Linked DNA regions of Homo sapiens: region 2 is linked to region 1. The links come from fine-mapping of genetic effects on plasma protein levels. A gene starts in region 1. The other region holds a variant in brackets. All regions are shown on one strand. Distances are from middle to middle. Region 1 holds the start of COL6A3 (collagen type VI alpha 3 chain). Region 2 overlaps COL6A3 (collagen type VI alpha 3 chain).

Evidence for each region. PIP is the posterior inclusion probability: the model's chance that the variant is causal. Protein levels are from antibody-based Olink assays in UK Biobank. Linkage for the fine-mapping came from a reference panel and not from the study's own genotypes, which makes the PIPs less certain.
Region 2: its variant is fine-mapped to the plasma level of the COL6A3 protein (UK Biobank, PIP above 0.99).

What each region holds. Positions count from the first base shown.
Region 1 is chr2:237,410,710-237,419,041 of GRCh38, forward strand. It overlaps COL6A3 (collagen type VI alpha 3 chain), which reads right to left and starts at 3,455. Exons shown (of 44, transcript NM_004369.4): 1 at 3,244-3,455.
Region 2 is chr2:237,319,416-237,327,747 of GRCh38, forward strand. COL6A3 (collagen type VI alpha 3 chain) reads right to left here. Exons shown (of 44, transcript NM_004369.4): 43 at 6,145-6,309; 44 at 4,603-5,399. The coding sequence ends at 5,359. Among named protein-coding and RNA genes, the nearest start is that of COL6A3, 91 kb to the right of the region's middle. RefSeq lists an enhancer at 5,093-6,292. The variant C/A (reference allele first, on the strand shown) is at 4,694.

The DNA of each region.
Region 1 (8,332 bases):
AAAATCAGGACCTGTGGAATACTCCCTGGAAATAAGACATTCATGACCACACATTAGAGGGGGCAAGCAACATGTTTTATTTAAAGAATAGGATTGTCCTTTCTTTGCACTGAATTTTTACACTGAATTCCACTGAAGTTTTACAGTGGAAACAGAGAAGCTGTATCTAGAAACGGGAGAATGAAGATAACCATTCTTGTCTAGTTCATGGCTGTCTGAATTAGTAGGAAACTTTAAAGCTCCCCCACTTTAAAATTTGGAGGGTTTGCGGCTTTCATTTTCTTAGCTAGAGCTAATAGGATTTTCTTTAAATGTCAGGTCCCTCCTCAAATCGTCAGCTATTTATGTAGCAGTGATGTGTTTTTTACTGCCTGCTTGCTGCAGCCAGGACACCATGAAAAGTTTGCTCCCGTAAGTCAGGGTGGAAAAGCTGCCTGGTACACAACATCCCTGTCAGATGGAAACCGCCTGCAATCCTTCCCCCAAGAGATAGCAGATTTTCAGCTTCTTCCAAAAAGAGCAGTGACAAAACTGAACTTTCAAATAAAAATTTTTGCTAAAGCTGTTACTGCGCCTGCAAGGAAGTGTCACGCAATAGTATTCACGACTTGCCGGTGAATTTTAAGTCCTAAACATGGAATTTCACATATAAGTGGGAGGTGATATCAACCGCTGGTGAAGACTACGCTTGATCCAGTTGTCTGAACACTCTGAGCAAGGAAACAAATGAAACCTCGCTGGCAAAAAGTCACTGCCAGCTTCCAAAGCTTCCAAAGAAGGCGGTCTTGTTTCAAGCTGGCTTTAGGCATCCAGGTCTATGGGTTCCGTTCCTGAAACTAAGGTCAGGATGAGCAGCCTCATTGGAACCATAAATCAACAATCGACTGAAGAGAGGAGCTTCTTCCTACTTTCTCATCGGGGACGTATTAAGTTCTAGGATAGGAAATCACAAAAGGCACTGATGATAAAGTCAGTGCAATTTGCTGAGTCCTGAATGCTTTAGAAATAAAATGAAGTGTGAAGTAAAGACAATTTTTCAGAAAGGTGCCTACCTCGTATCAAAAATATCATTCAGACCCCAGGTTTGGACATTTGCCACATGTCCCCTCACCTGTGGGCCACAACTATAGTGGGGTGGAACACGCTCCCTGCCAAGCAGGGAAAGAGCGGGGCCAAGGGCTAACATTCTAGAGGCTTCCCCAGCCACCTCCCAGAAAGGTGCTGTAGCCACACCCTCCAATGCCTGGATAGGAAAAGCCAGGACAGCCTCACTTCACCCCAACATGGAATTCCTTCCCAAGCCCTCTGCTCCACTCAGTGTCTGCTTCCTGGCTTCTCTCGACCATGAGTGAGGAAAGGAGAGAACTAAACCTCTGGGTAGCAAGAAACCCCCTAAACAAAGAAGTCCAGACAGGCAGCTGTTCCTACATCCTGATCTTTGTAAAAGCCACGCCTCCCCACCCAGGCTTTCATCCTCAGCTACAAGCCCACTTCAGAAAGAAGAGCATACAGGTCCCCTCCTTCAGCGCCCTCCACCCCCAGGAGGTGGCCTGAGCAGGGCGGCCAGCCCCGGTATTCCGGTCACGGAACCGATGCCCCCGCCCCACGGTCCACCTCCCTTCTTTCTCGGTTCATTGGTAGAGTCTTAGTGAGCCCAAAGCAGTTTTCCCAACGAGATGTGAGTTATTTGGGATCCTCCGTCACTGGCTTGTCTGCTCTCCTTCAATGGGGAAGGATTTCACTGCCATCTCAGGCACTCGCTCCCTGGCCTGGGCAAGGAATTCCGCATCTCAGAGCCCCTGGTTGCTCATTTTGAAAACCAGGAAACTACTGCATCAGTGGCTTCTGACCAAAAATCTCTTCCATTATCTTTAGCCCAACAAAAACCTCAGAAGTCCCAGTAATGTCATCAACGGCCACCCACTCAGTTTTCAATATAGTTTTGCTTAGGAGCAATGTAACTTTGATTTTAAAGCCATTTCGGTTGTTTTTTACAGCATTAAGAATGGGACCCTGGGGAGCTGGGGGATCCCAGGTTGAGCATCCACCATCCCCGTGAGCTCTGAGCACCCTGCAGCTCTAGCACCCTGTGGTCCTCGCCGGGGTGAGCTGTATGTGGGGAGAGAAGCCAGTCAGCCGGGGCCACAGCCCTGCCTCCCCATCCAGCACAGCAGACTCCCCTGTGCTCAGAGGGGTTTGCTCCTGGGGTCTGCACCGGCCTCGAAACTGGCTCCTGGGGCTTCCTGTGGAAGCAGATTTTTCTTTAACCACTCCCTAGTCCCTCCCAGTGACCCCACCCATACTTCAATACCCGTTCATTATCCAACATAGTAGGCCCCTTGAAACAGGTTCCCCAAACAGGCTGGCCACTGTCAGCGAACGTGTCCATCCTCAGCAAGAGAGGGCCCGAGCCCCACCCTGCATCCTCCGGGCCAGAGAACAGCCCTCGGGGCCTCCCAGCTCGGCACTGGCCTCACCTCTGTGCAGCATGGGCTGGCCCTGCAGCCCCAGGGGCCCTGCCTTAGACACTCAGCATGCTGCCCAAATGCCCAATTCCTTCTTCTCCTCTGACCCCTGCAACTCCTTTAAGCAACCCCAAGGGACAAAGTCTCCAATAGAGACTTCAGGTTCCTGGAAAGACGAAAGCTTGACGGCAATGACTGAGCGACCCTTTACTTGGCCCTGATCCTGAGCACCAGAGTTACTCCAATCTTGTGAAAGCAGCAAATGTGCTCCACCAGGACCTTCCCATGGGCGGCCCTGGGCAGAAAACCCATGCAGGTTGTTGCACCCTGACCTAGTGTCACCACCCAGAGAGCTCAGAGAACATCTCCCAGCGGAGCCGCCCGGCAGGGAGCTATGCTAGTCCTCAGCAAAGACGCTTCTGCAAACAAAGCGGATCCCGAATGGGTTTTAGAAGGCGGCAGTAACTTAAATAAATCATGGGCCGAAACACACTGCCGCCCGGAATGCACAGGGCGCGTGTAGCAGCCACAGACACGCGGTGGAAAAGTGCTCACACTCTTAGGCAATCATGACCTTAACCAATTTAAGGAAATCCCATTGCCATAAAGTGAGAAAGAAAAATCAGCGGAATCTTCCAGAGACCTAAAACATGTACAGAAAACTGGCGATCAGCATGAACGTAAGAGCCACTAACGCTACCTAGAAAGGATCACTTCAGGTTAAGAGCATTTCCTTCTAGCCCCAAACCTGGAAAAACAGAAGAGAAATCACACTTACCCCTGAGCAAACCTGAAGGCGTGTGTCCCTGGGCTCCTCGATTCAATTAGGTTTGAATAGGATGCATACTTTTCCCACTCACTGCGTCTCTTTTTCTTTTTGCAGCCTTTCTCCACCAAAAAAGTGGAGACTCAGAGCTGCGGAGGAAAACTCTTGCAGTCCTTGCAGGAGGCTGGAGCCCAGGAGAACTGAACGGCCTTTGGTGGAAGACTGAGCTCCAAACTGGACTGGGGCCAGGGATACCAGTCAGGGCTTCCTCCAGCTCCTCCTCCTCCTCCTCCTCCCTCCCGGACCCCTCCTCTCCCCCTCCTCACTGCAGAACTGACCCAAAACTGTAAATGAAACCAGACTCCTCCACTCTGTTTCTTCTGGCCCCCGCTCAGGCTGATGTCACCCTCTGAATTCTGTCTTCACCCTACAAGCGTTTAGCTGGACTCCTGCAAGCCCCAACTCTTAAAAAAAAAAATTGACCACTCCTACTCGTCACCTTTTGGGCTGGGCCCTTGGCGTCAAAAAGAATAAATTTTGGAATTTCTTCGTGGGTATCCATGGTTTTCCTGCAATGTTTTCCAACACCATCTGAAAGGAAAACAGGAAATGCAGTCCCCCGCTTACCCTCACCACACCCTCCCATTTCTTCTTGAAGTTTCTGAATTGAGACTTCTACTAATAACTTCCCCCTTCAAATAGAAAAACCAGCAATTAAAATCGCCTTGGTTTTCTGTTAACCAAAGCTCTGTTCACCGGCAAAAAAAAGGAGGCTACATTTCTCTTAATTTCTATATCTAATGATTCTGATTGTGGCGCTTATAGGCCCATTCTAGGCACAGACGGGGTAATAAAAATGGTTATCTTGCCAAAGCTTCGGGAAAATACTTGAGTAAGAACTTCTGTTTCTAGAAAGCTTTGCACATTTCAAAACACTTCAATATACATTCTCTCCTTTATCACAAACATCAACACCCTAAGCCCTTTTAAATAGAAAGATGTCTTCTTTTATTAGGTGAAATTGTGGTCCCATTTTACAGATGAAAGAAACAGGCTGGGCACGGTGGCTTATGCCTGTAATCTCAGCACTTCGGGAGGCTAAGGCAGGCAGATCACAAGGTCAGGAGTTGGAGACCAGCCTGGCCAACATGGTGAAACCCCTACTAAATCTCTACTAAAAATATAAAAATTAGCCAGGCATGGTGGCAGGCGCTTGTAGTCCCAGCTATTTGGGAGGCTGAGGCAGGACAATTGCTTGAACCCAGGAGGCAGAGGTTGCAGTGAGCCGAGATGGCGCCACTGCACTCTAGCCTGGGCAACAGAGTGAGACTCCAAAAAAGAGAAAAAGGAAAGAAAGAAAAGAAATGAAAAGAAAAGAAGAGAAGAGAAGAGAAGAGAAGAGAAGAGAAGAGAAAAAAGAAAAAAAGAAAAGAAAAGAAGAAAAGAAAAGAAGTTCCGAGAGAGTAAGTGACATCGTCATTGTCCAGTCTGGGTTAGTAACAGAGCTCAAATGACAACCCAGCTTTGGCCATCCCCAAACTTCTCACTGCTCTCCCATCATGTGGTCCTTATGAAAAGTCCATTAATGTGAAATATCAAGAGACATCCGAAAGGTTCTTTTTGACTGAGAGATCCTTCCAAACCAAGTTTGAAGAGCAAAGAAATCATTAACTCCTTTCCATGGATTATCTCCCTCCAATTTAGGGAAGAAAGGAGACAGCACCCCAGAGAGAATGCCTGCTCCCCTCTGCAGCTCCAGGGCTCCCTTCCTCTCCCATAAAGAAGCCCAACCCATCTCTAAACCAAAGGGCTCACTTGCAGAGCACTGGAGTAGGGAACAAGGATGGAACCTGAATTATGGGGTTCTTAGGTGAAGACACGCTGAGCAGAGGCTCCGAGTATAGAACCGCGCTGCCTGCATGACATGTAGAAGGACAACACGCCCCTCCAGCGGCATCCAATTCTCTGCCCTCATCCTCTCTGCACAGTGCAGGCGTTGACTCAAGCCCCTACAGAGACCGGGGATACTTGCTGCCACCCCCTTGGTTAGAGTCTGCAACTTCAGCACTAAGGAGGACTATTTCTCCCAGAACATTGTCTGCTGCGAAGAAGACAATCTTTGATTACAACCCCATGCTCCAAGCAGCTCAGCAAACTGAGGTTAACTGAACAAGCACGTTTTAGGTGTTTCCACTCCACGGTTTCTTTCAAATACAAATACACTCTTTTTCGCAAAATCGCTAGGCAGATGCATTCCTTGGTATTGAAAGTTTCTATTACAGTCGACCTCGTATCCATGGGTTCTGCATCCATGGATTTAACCAACTGTGGTTCAAAAATGCTTTTTAAAGTAGATGATTGCATATATACTGAACATGTACAGATGTTTTTCCTTGTCATCATTCTCTAAATGACACAGTATAACAACTGTTTACATGGCATTTACACTGTATTAGGTATTATAAGTAATCTAGAGATGGCTTGAAGTACACAGAAGGATGTGCATAGGTTATGTGCAAATACTACACCACCTTCCTTCAGGGATTGGGGCCTCTGTGGATTTGGGTATCCATGGAGGTTCCTGGAATCAGTCCCCCATGGATACCAATGGATGGCTATATTTAAACAGCAAGGGCAAGAAATCATTTAGAACATGATTTAAAGAAATAAAAGCTCCCATTCAGTAGGAAACCATAATCTTTAATATTTAGCTGCACCTACTCATTGATGATCCAGATCCTCTTCAGCACTGCCCATGGCTCTAGAAACTTCCAGAAACTCATGGTAAACCTCCCTTGTGCTAACAAGAGAGAATTTGGGTTCTATGGCAGCTTTCTTCCTTAATCACCACTATGTGGATTCCCACTTACATTTCCAGTTCCTCTCTGCTACCTGATCCCAGGAGGAAAACAACCTCAAAAGTTTGAGCTGCCCTAAACGTCCTGAGTCCTGGATCTAGGCCCGGCCATCGGTGGGACCTCATAAGTCACTGAATCTCTCAGTTCACCTCATAAGTCACGGAATATCTCAATTCTGTTTCCCCTTCACTGCAGGCTTGAACTGGCTCTTGGCACCTCTTCCCATTTTCTTCCCTTATCTTGTCCTTAACTACACAAGTTAGCAAGTTCAGAACTCCATTTTCCAAGCTCCCTTGTAGCTGTGGCCCTGATGGGGATGGGGCCTCCCCATCCAGATACACGGCTATGGGATTGGAAGGTGGCCTGAGGGATGGCGATTTTCTGAGACTTTGGCTGCCCTTTCTCCTGCGGGCAAGGACAGTGTGGAAGGTCCCATGGGTGCCTCTGCAAGACTCCCCTCAGATGAGAGTCAAATGTTAGTGGTTCACACCCACGCCCTTTCCTGGAGGACTGTTCGTGGATGCTGGGATCTGTCTCTTCTGGACACATTGGGGTGTGTGAGGTGGGTGGAATTCCAAGATGACCCCCAGGAGTCAAGCCCTTGCGTAATCCACCCCCCTTGCGTGCAAATGGAAGCTGAGCCCTGATTCCAGCCTTTGAACACGACAAAAATGAATGGTGTCCCTTCCTGGATTAGGTTACAGTTGGGTCGTGGGAAGTCACCCAGGGATCACAGAAGACTCTGTCTTAGGAAACGGCAGGGAGAGATTATCTTGCTGGCTGCTGGGGTCTGGATGTCATGTCCCCCAAAAATCCATATGTTGAAATTCTAACCCCCAAAGTGATGGTATTGGGAGATGGGGCCTTTGGGAGGTTATTGGGTCGTAGAGGAGAAGCCTTGATGAATGGGATCAGTGCCTTATAAAAGAGGATATGGAGAGACTGCTCCATCCTCCCACCATGTGAGGATACAGAGGGAAGGTGCAGTGCACGAGTTAGGAAGCAGGACCTCTCCAGACACCGAATCTGCGGGCACTTTGATCTTGGGCTTCTCAAACTCCCAAACATGAGAAATCAATTTTTGTTGTTTAAGCCACCAAGTTTAAGACATTTTGTTACAACCATCCAAATGGACTAAGACACTGGCCTTGACAAAGTGAGCCGCCATCCTGTGAGGGCCAATGGCAAGGAAATGTGGGGGCCTCTGGGAGCTGAGAGCAGCTCCTAACAAGCAAGGAAGCAGGAACCCCAACTCGACAACCACAAGGGCCTGACTTCTGCCAACATCTACGTGAGCTTTGAAAAGACTCCGTGTTTCAGAAAGAAATGTAGTCTCCCAAACGGAGGTTTCAGCCTCTGAGACCCCAGCAGAGGACCCAGTGAAGCCAAGCCTGAACTCCTGACCCAAGATACTAAATGCATGTTGTCGTAAATTGCTAGTTTTGTGACAATTTGTTACACAGCAGTTGATAACTAGTACAGGGTTATAGCCCATCTCCCTTGGGGTGGCCCACAGCCAGTGATGTCTGATGTGGGATGTGACACTCCAGTCCATTGCCTCTGGGCCAGAAAAACTTGGCAAGAGGATTCTCACTGCAGAACACCTGCCATGGGACCAGCCTGACTTCTCAGAACCCACTCCTTGCCTGGCTTCTTCTCCTGCCCTCATCCTTCTTCCTGCCTTCCTTCTAGGTTTCCCCTGGGAGCTCTCCCTCAGTAATCGCTTGCACAACACCCTGTCTCAGGCTCTGCTAGAAGGAACTTGAACATACACACAGTCATAGAGAAGCCAATATGAAGACTCCAGCTCCCTGAATGTTAAGAGGCAGTGGCAGACTGTGTAACAGACTAAGCATCCGAGTTCCATCACAGTCTCCAGGACTCAAAGGGAAGTCGCAGCCACAGCAGCAGCATCTGCCACACCCCGCATCCCAGCATCCAGACAGCTGCTGAAGGGTGCCTCGATCTTTGTCCTGTAAACCCTGGATTGCGGCTGTGCAGTGTGTTCCTAAGTTCAGTCTCTCCGGGGCAGGCTCCTGTTTCCCTGCCTCCCAGAATAGACCAGAGGGTTTATGCTGGGATATCCTGGGAGATATTCCTGGAGGGCCAGCTCAAGTCCACTCTTCTCACCCTCCCAACCAGCTCCCAGTGATGGATCTGCAATCATGTTAATAGATTTGCTTGTTGCAGTGAGGCTGGAGTTTCCTCTTATTGAAGAGGAGGTATGTGACATTCCAAAATCA
Region 2 (8,332 bases), 91 kb before region 1:
GGTGTGTCTGTGAGGGTGTTGCCAAGGGAGATTAACATTTGAGTCAGTGGACTGGGAGAGGCAGACCCACCTCAGTCTGTTTGGGCACTATCTAATCTGATGCCAGTGCAGCCAGAAAAAAGCAGGCAGAAAAACGTGGAAGGACTAGACTGGCTGAGTCTTCCCGCCTTCGTCTTTCTCCCGTGCTGGATGCTTCCTGCCCTGATACATCAGACTCCAAGTTCGTCGGCTTTTGGACTCTTGGACTTACACCAATGGTTTGCCAGGGGCTCTCGGGCCTTCGGTCACACACTGAAGACTGCACTGCCAGCTTCCCCACTTTTGAGGTTTTGGGACTCAGACTGGCTTCCTTGCTCCTCAGCTTGCAGACGGCCTATTGTGGGACTTCATCTTGTGATCGTGTAAGTCAATACTCCTTAATAAACTCCCTTTCATATATATGTCTATCCTATTAGTCCTGTCCCTCTAGATAATGGTGACTACTACAACCTCCAACCAAAGAGAGATGAGGGTCAGTCCATAAACGTCCAGCTTTCTGTTCCTCGTAGCATTCTCCCCACTTTCTCAGTGGGTTTCCAGGGAGACTGAGCCCCAGTTGCTCTCAAGGGTAACATGCTTTTAGTTAATGCACCATCCCTTGACTTGCCAACTTCTTTGTCTTGCTTCTCAGTGGCCTCATTTGTGCTTCCCACACACCTTCCGAAACAAATGACTGCAGCCAAAACTTGGTCAGGATCTGCTTTCGGGGAACTCAACATAAGACTGGTTTATGAATGACCAGTCAGCTTCTTCAACTACAACTCCTATCAAATGTAACTGTTTTAAATGGGGTCTTTCAAAACAAATATTCTTTCCCAGATATACAAGTTCTGACAATTTCTTTTTATTGTGCTATTTCTGTTTCTAACATCTCTTATAAAATTCATGTAAATGCTGGGAATTTACTAGTCTCTTGAAATCAAACATGCATAGCTAGCTCCCTTTGCAGATGCCCAAATGCCTTCTCTTAGATGACTTTTTGCAACAGCAGCATGGTTTTCACAGAGACATCTGACATAGGCAGGAAAACAATATCAGTTTTCCAGGTTGAGCGATACTTGGGTGGTGTCACCATCATGCACAGAGGCCCTTGAATCACTGGCCTTTTCCCATCACTCATGACCAAATGCCTTCAAGCTTTGACTACTAGATTCCAAAATACTACTTCTTTGGTGTTTTGGTCTTTAGCAGATTTATACCCACCATAAAGTTGGGTGGAAGACTAGGGAATACCACGGAAAAGGATTTCTGAACTGGCTCTGCATGGGATCTCAGGAATGCTGAGGGGTGGCCCAAAGCTGGAGAGCATGATTCCAAGAAAGCAGGAAGACCCCAGGAATCCCATGGCTCTTACAGCAGCTCACCATCAGTATTCATCTCCCAGGGAAGGGGAGGCACAGGCAGCGGCAAAGCTCAGACCCAAACTAAACCGAGGAGGGGTATGGCAGAGGGCAGCCTCTGGACTGGGCCCCCTGGCCTGGCAGTGTCAGCAGTCCCCAACTTCTCCGGAAGCCACACCCAGATAGGTGGAACCCTGAGAGCCTGGCTCATGAAGAGCAGCTAGGTCCAGCTGGAAATCTGACAACAATGGAAATTTGGCAGGAAAATACGAACCATCTCCTAAAAATGAACCACCATGGGGAAAGAAATTTAAAATGGTTCTTGAGGGTTCAAAACATTGGCTTTCTACAAAAAGCCTGGCACCCATTCATAAGTGCTGTGATTTCTTTTTAATTATGCAGAAAATCGTTGAGGGAATGAAAGTATAAAGCACTTGTATTTAAAAATCCAGCAAAGCTGCTGTTGAAAGGATTGAGATGTGCTCACAGTTGAGCACAAATAGACGTCCTCGTGACTCGGCCTTGGAGCCCAGGCAGGCCATACTCAGCCCAGGCCACCTTCTGCGCAAGCCCTCAATGCGTGCCAGAGCCCCCAGCTTCTCCAAGTTCTTTCCTAAGCCAGAGCAGCTCAGGATAATGAGAAGAGATGGAAAAGACTACAATGAAAGGAAGGAGAAGGATAGAGACTTGCTGTCTGAGAAAGAGTGACGGAAGGTCTTGGGGAGGGTCATGTGGAGGGCATGCTTTGTTCTGGGAAAAGACACATGGCTTAGATCTGACTTCCAGAGAAAGAGCCAGAAACATCTAGAGAATGGCAGTGAGCGTCCCACAGGAGCCAACCTTGGAACTCTGAGAGGGCTTCTGGGTCACCATAACTTGCCCAGATCCTCCATTAGAACATAGCTGGGTGAAAAGGACCACTCTGACCCTCTGTTTCATCATCTTTAAAACTGGAACAATGACCGCTACTGAACGGCACCACCTAAGATGTGTGTGAAACACCTAGTACAGCACCTGACCCACAAAGGCTTCTGGATAAAGGTGCGCTGTGTTCGTTACGGTCACACCAGCTGCTAGAACAGCCCAAGACCTCAGTCTCTTACTTCAATAGAAGTTTATTTCTTAGTCACAAAATCCAAAACAGGTTTTCTTTATTGGCAGGCCACCTTCCACGGGCCAGGCTGGAGGCTTCCCCAGAGAGAGCTGAGTGGATATGAGGGTCAGGGACATGTCAGGGTTCAAGAAAGGACACAGAGTCCTTGGCATAGTCTGGCAGAAGAATGTCTTGGGAAGAGAAATCCACGAGCTGTCAAGGGGTCAGGAATCCTGCAGCTCAGATCATGTTTTGCTGAACCCTAAGTTAGGACAGACAATGTAACAAAGGATTTTGTTTTATTTGCTCTGTGGGAATAAATGGGAGAAACTGCCCATCCACCACCTGAGCACCTTGCCTTACCCTAAGTTAGCAGCACACACAGCTTAACCAGCCACTCACCTGGACTTACATCACTTCCTGCTTCTCCTGAGTCAGGTGAGATGGTGGGTGTGATTGTCCCAGCAACCTTGAGCAGCCAAGGGACACACACAGAGAAGCAATGCATAGATAGAGTGAACCAAGAATGGCAGGGATGGGCATGCTGGCAACAGGAGGTGGAAAGGGAGAGAGGGTTCTGGAGCCCTTGGAAGTGAGTCTCCTAGTGATGGGCCCTGCCCCAGTCTATTGTAACACACCTTGAGCAGACCATCTAGGTATGTTACAAATATTGGTGTCCTACTCCTGTACCTTGGGCCTGACTACTCCCCCAAGTTCCACATGGGAGTATCTGCAGGTCTTTGCCAAGAACATTTTCTTACACTACAGAAGGCCCCTTTGCCAGTGTGCCTGCAAGCCAAGAGGACCAGAGCATGAATGCCTCAGTGACCCGTGGAAACAGGTGTATGACTACCCAAACTCCTTCAGCCCTCTGCTGGCCTACGAGGTGCAGTGCCACAGGTGCACCTCCCAGGGTTTCCCCGAGGGATTGGGCTCTGGGCACCCACAGTGGACGCTGACTATACACCTCTTAACAGTGCTCTCCCTTTGCTTGTCTCACTCCCCACTTCTCAGCCACTCAGTGACTTCCTTCACCTCCCAAATAAACTACTCACACCCATATCCTTAGTCCTAAGGGCTGCTTCCGGAGGAACCCAAAAAGTAAAACCAGATTGTGATGCTCATTTTAGGTCCATAGCAGATCAAGTCAATGGGGGTGGCGGGGGCAGGGATCCCTTGGGAAGTGGAGCACTCAGCCCACCGCTATGGGAGCTGGGCCCACAGCTCTCTGCTCCGCAAGTTCCTGCAAGAGGCTGGTGTTGGGTGCCTGGCAGATCCCAGGGTTGGTCACCAAGGGTCACAGCTCAGAGCACACTGACCTGAGCACCCCATGGTAGCTGCCGAGATAGAAGAGGACTGGGGAGGAGGTCATGGCGACCTTGTGGGGACTAAGTGGCGCTTCTGAAGAGGGCCACACTCCTCTCTCCTTTCCCAATAGACCAACTGGCAAATTCATCCCGATTTTACATAAAACATTTCTGCTGACACCCAAGATTCCTGTAATTCTACCCTCAGCACTTGTCAGGACATATGTATTTTATCCAATAAGTTGTTTCCTTTGTAAGTGGAACTCAAGTGCCACCTGAATATGTATTTGTTGGTTTCTTGTATTATTTCTGAAGAGAGAAAAAAACAGTCTTTAAGAAAAACAAAAAAATGAAAGACCTTGTGCTTTGAGACTCCAGAAAAGGGGTTGGGGGTCGTGGGGCAACACTGAATCTCTCAGCCATTGTGAGAGGAAGCAAATCAACCCCCTGGGAAAGGATCACTGTGGAGAGGAAGACAGGAGGAGGCTGAGGCTCTGAGGGCCAACCAAGAGTCAGAGGAAAAGATAGAAGCCAGCCTGACTCTGAAAATCAGAAACACTGCCGGGACCCAACAGCAGGAACACCTTCCGCTCGGCCATGGAGCACTGGAGCATGTGGGGCTGAATCCACAAAGCGGGGGATGCTTGTCTCCAGCCGGTCTCTTTGCACACTGGCTGATAAAGCTCTTTTGCCTCCTCCACTGGAAACGAAAGGCTGTTGCACAGCTCCATGGGGCCAGAACCAAACCCAGTTTCCCCAGCCTAGGGGTGATTCTGACAATCGCTGCTATGGAAACAAGACTGCCAAGAACGTCACACCCAGGAAACTTTCAATATACTTTATTAAAAAGTTTCTTTGTATAAATTTCCTAAACATTTTAAAATTAAAATTAAATCCCCTCCCTCCAGCACACA[C/A]AAAAAAAAAACACACAACATTAGAGGAATGCCAAAAATATTCTCTATTACAACTTTTTTAAATTCTTTAATTAAGGCATTGGTCCCAACGGTGCACATAGATTAAGGGATTTTGCTTCCTTCTGAACTAGATCATTTGTTAGAGGCTTCAGAAAAAGAAAATTAGCTTGAAATCTAGTCTGGGAAATTGGGGGCAGGGAATGAAAAAGTTGGTCTCTTGTTTCTCCACGATACACAGGCTTCCCATCTAAAGTCATGCTTAACTAAAAGGGAAAAAAAATGAACCAAGCAAAAGTATATAGAGTAGCCGTGACATTTGCATTATTTTCTAGACTTTACATTTGCCTGCAACAGGCATAACATGAAACTCCAGAGGGAATTTGGATTGATAGGAATGTTCACATAAACACCAGCAGTGGCTAACTGTTACACAACATTCAAAGTATTCGAGAGAACTGCCTGGAGACAGAGAGCGAGGGTCCACAGACACATTAGCACCATACTGATAGGTCATGCAGCAGGATGTTCCCTCCCGAGTTCGAGTGTAAATCAAAGCATGAAATGATACAGTGCAAGGGAATCTACACCCGGAGCTTCTACAGAGACAAGTTGGCGATGGCTGACTCCTTCTTCTTCAAGAGGTATATGATGTTGGCCACCCACGCTTAGGTTCCCATCACACTGATGACTCCGGGTTTGGCGAGCACTGAGCGTCGAGAGAGGGGGTGGGTGGGGTGAGGTGAGGAGCCGAGAGAAGAGAGGAAAAGCCACATTACTGACCCAAAAGGGCACTGTCATTATCATGACACAGTCCCGCAGCCTCTGGTTTCCATCACCTGTCCCACTTTTCTACTCAGTACCATCAAAGGCCCTCTGTGACGTTCTTGGCCTGGGGCCCCGGGGCCCAGGGATGTCTGGGAAATCTGATCCCATTCTTTTGCCCTGCACCATCTACCAGGCCTTTATACGAACTGAACTCTCCCCATTCTGGCACTGACCCCAGGCTCTGTTCAAAGTGTTTATTTTATTACCAGTTGAACTGCACAATATAATGGAGATACTGGATGGCCCCAGTGACAACATTGTTATTTATAGGAAGCAAAACTATTTAAAAGATAAATTTGTGGGGGTTGTTTATCTTTGGCGTTATCTGTAGTTGTTCATTATATTATCTTCCCAGGAATCATTTTTGGTGCAATATTTTACAAATAACAGCAACTTAGTAACATTTCTGAAGAATGACAAGGGACAATATGTTTTTAGAAACCCAAAATAGGAATTCAAAAAGACATTTCATGGGTTGTATTTGAACGTCTTCCTTATCTGAGGATACACTTTATCTTCTTTTTCACATGTATCATAATCATTGCACTTCTAATATTTTTCAAGGTGACTTATTGACCTGAATCTCTTATTTGCAGAAGCCATAAACACAAGGAAGAATCACTTACCAGGAGCGCAAACCTTTTCACATTCTTTCTGTGATCCAAATTTGTTTTCGTTTCCACCACAACCTCCATACCAGAATCTTGCACAGCTTTTGGTGTTTGGATCATAGTACCATTTTAATATGAAATCCCTGCAAGTTCCTTCGTCTTTCGGCAACTTGCATATATCTTTAATAAAAACATGAGAAAAGGATATTAATGAGAACATGCGTGTTACTCGGCTCCCAGTGCTGGGGCTGACAGTCTGATGACCCTACTGTGGCAGAAGGAAAAAAAAGAAGAGCTTCCAGGTGAAAACTCCCTTAACCTGCTCAAATCTCCATTTCCTCACTGCCATATGGACATAGGAATTGCTTACAGCCTTGTGAGAGATAGATGAAATTATATCAATGAAAGGGCTTCATAAACAGCACTCAGAATCCCAAATGCTGGCAATGGTTATTGAATAATTTTAAATGAAATGAATTGTTTTTCCCCTTTCCAATCACTGGGCCATTTGCCCTCCAAGTCCTTCCATGTTAAATCCCCAGAAAAGAAACTGAATTTTAAAACCTCAGGGTTTTATAATTCTTGGCAAAATGGAAATTCGATTCTGTTGGGATATAGTTCAAAAATAAGGCTCTACCTTTCATTACAAGCCAAGTAGACTGAAAATTAAAGGTAAAGCAGAAAAGAAAATCCTTTATGAGTGTGTGTGTGTGTGTGTGTGTGTGTGTATGCACGTATGTGTGGTAGCCAAGAGCCTTTGTGACCTGCCAAATGAAACACGTAAAACAAAGAGCTAGCACTGATGTAAAATTCATGATGGCAAAAATGTCACATAGCAGAACTATTTTGAAGACAGAGAAGCATTCTTTTCCCAGTTAAGGAAGTTTATGTTTCCAATGCACACGTCTGATGTAGCCCAGCTGCAAAGTAAAGCAAAGGTCCCCTCGACGCCTGGAGAGAAGAGTTTACAGTTCACACACAGCACGACTCCTGTTTACAGAGTTTTCTGGCAAACTCCAGATTGTTCTGGGAAAGAGAAGCATTGATGTCAACTGTTATCTGTAAGTTTGAAAACGTAAACCTTCTTTCTCCAAAACTCCCTGGAGCCAATAATTCTGCATGTTCCTGTGAGTAGCTAACAGGCTGGAATTATCCAGCTCTCCCCTACAAAGAGATGCTTCTCCATCTCCTTTGTCCCCAGCGAGGCAGGCTGCTCACAGCTGCGGAGGTGGTGAGCATCTGTGCTTCAGATAGATACCAAAAAGGACAAGGAAAACCTAAGTCTTCAGTGGATAATCATAGCTTGGATCACCCACGATGGACCAGACTCAAAGGTGCACAGGACTGAGGCTCAGAATTGGTCTAAAACATTTCCTGGTTGCTGCTGTCACCCAAATTCCAGGCTGGTGGCTGGTGGCTCCACAGTTACAACACCTCCTAGTTGCAGACGCTCTCAGGGCCCAGAAAGCCAGTGGTCCCCACGAGAGCCTTTGAAGACTCCAGGAAGTCAGAATAAAATGAAGACAATTTACAAAAACAACCTTCTTTCTCTCAAATATGCCAATAACTGAAGGAAAATGCCTGGCTGTCAAGGAAGGTCCTGGAGAGAACTGACAAGGCAAGGTAATTTAACCATCAAAATTTATTCCTCATTTACTGGTGGCTTCCCTGTTAGCGTGAGGCCGGCGTCAAATGATCTCCCTATTCTTCCTTCCTTCCCAGAGCGTTGGCCAATGGACCCTATTTGCTCTATTTTATTTGTTTCAAGTGCACTTCAGTCCTGACCATCTGTGTTTAGCTGTTCAATTCCCAGTCCCCTGGGCTCTGCTGAACCAGTCACGAGAGGTCTGCCCAGAGCCACGGACACCCAGCCCATGAGTGGCCTCACAGCAGCACACTCCACTCCCCGTCTGATTGGCTTCTCCAGCTTCCTTGGCCCTCCACCCTAGCCCTCCAGTTCCACACCACGGCACTGGTGTTTTCTGCCCTTATTTCAGTGAGAGTCACTACTGAGACCCTGTAAGATTTACTAGTGGAAAATAAGGACACTGTTACTGTGGACAAGAAGATATTTGGAAAACCAAGAGAAATATATTAGTGAGGTGAGAACCCGGCACTATTCAAAGACAAAAACCTGTACTTCTCTACTTCTGAAGCATGAAAACGGAGGATTTTATGTTCTTAAGAAGGCTTCTAATGCAAA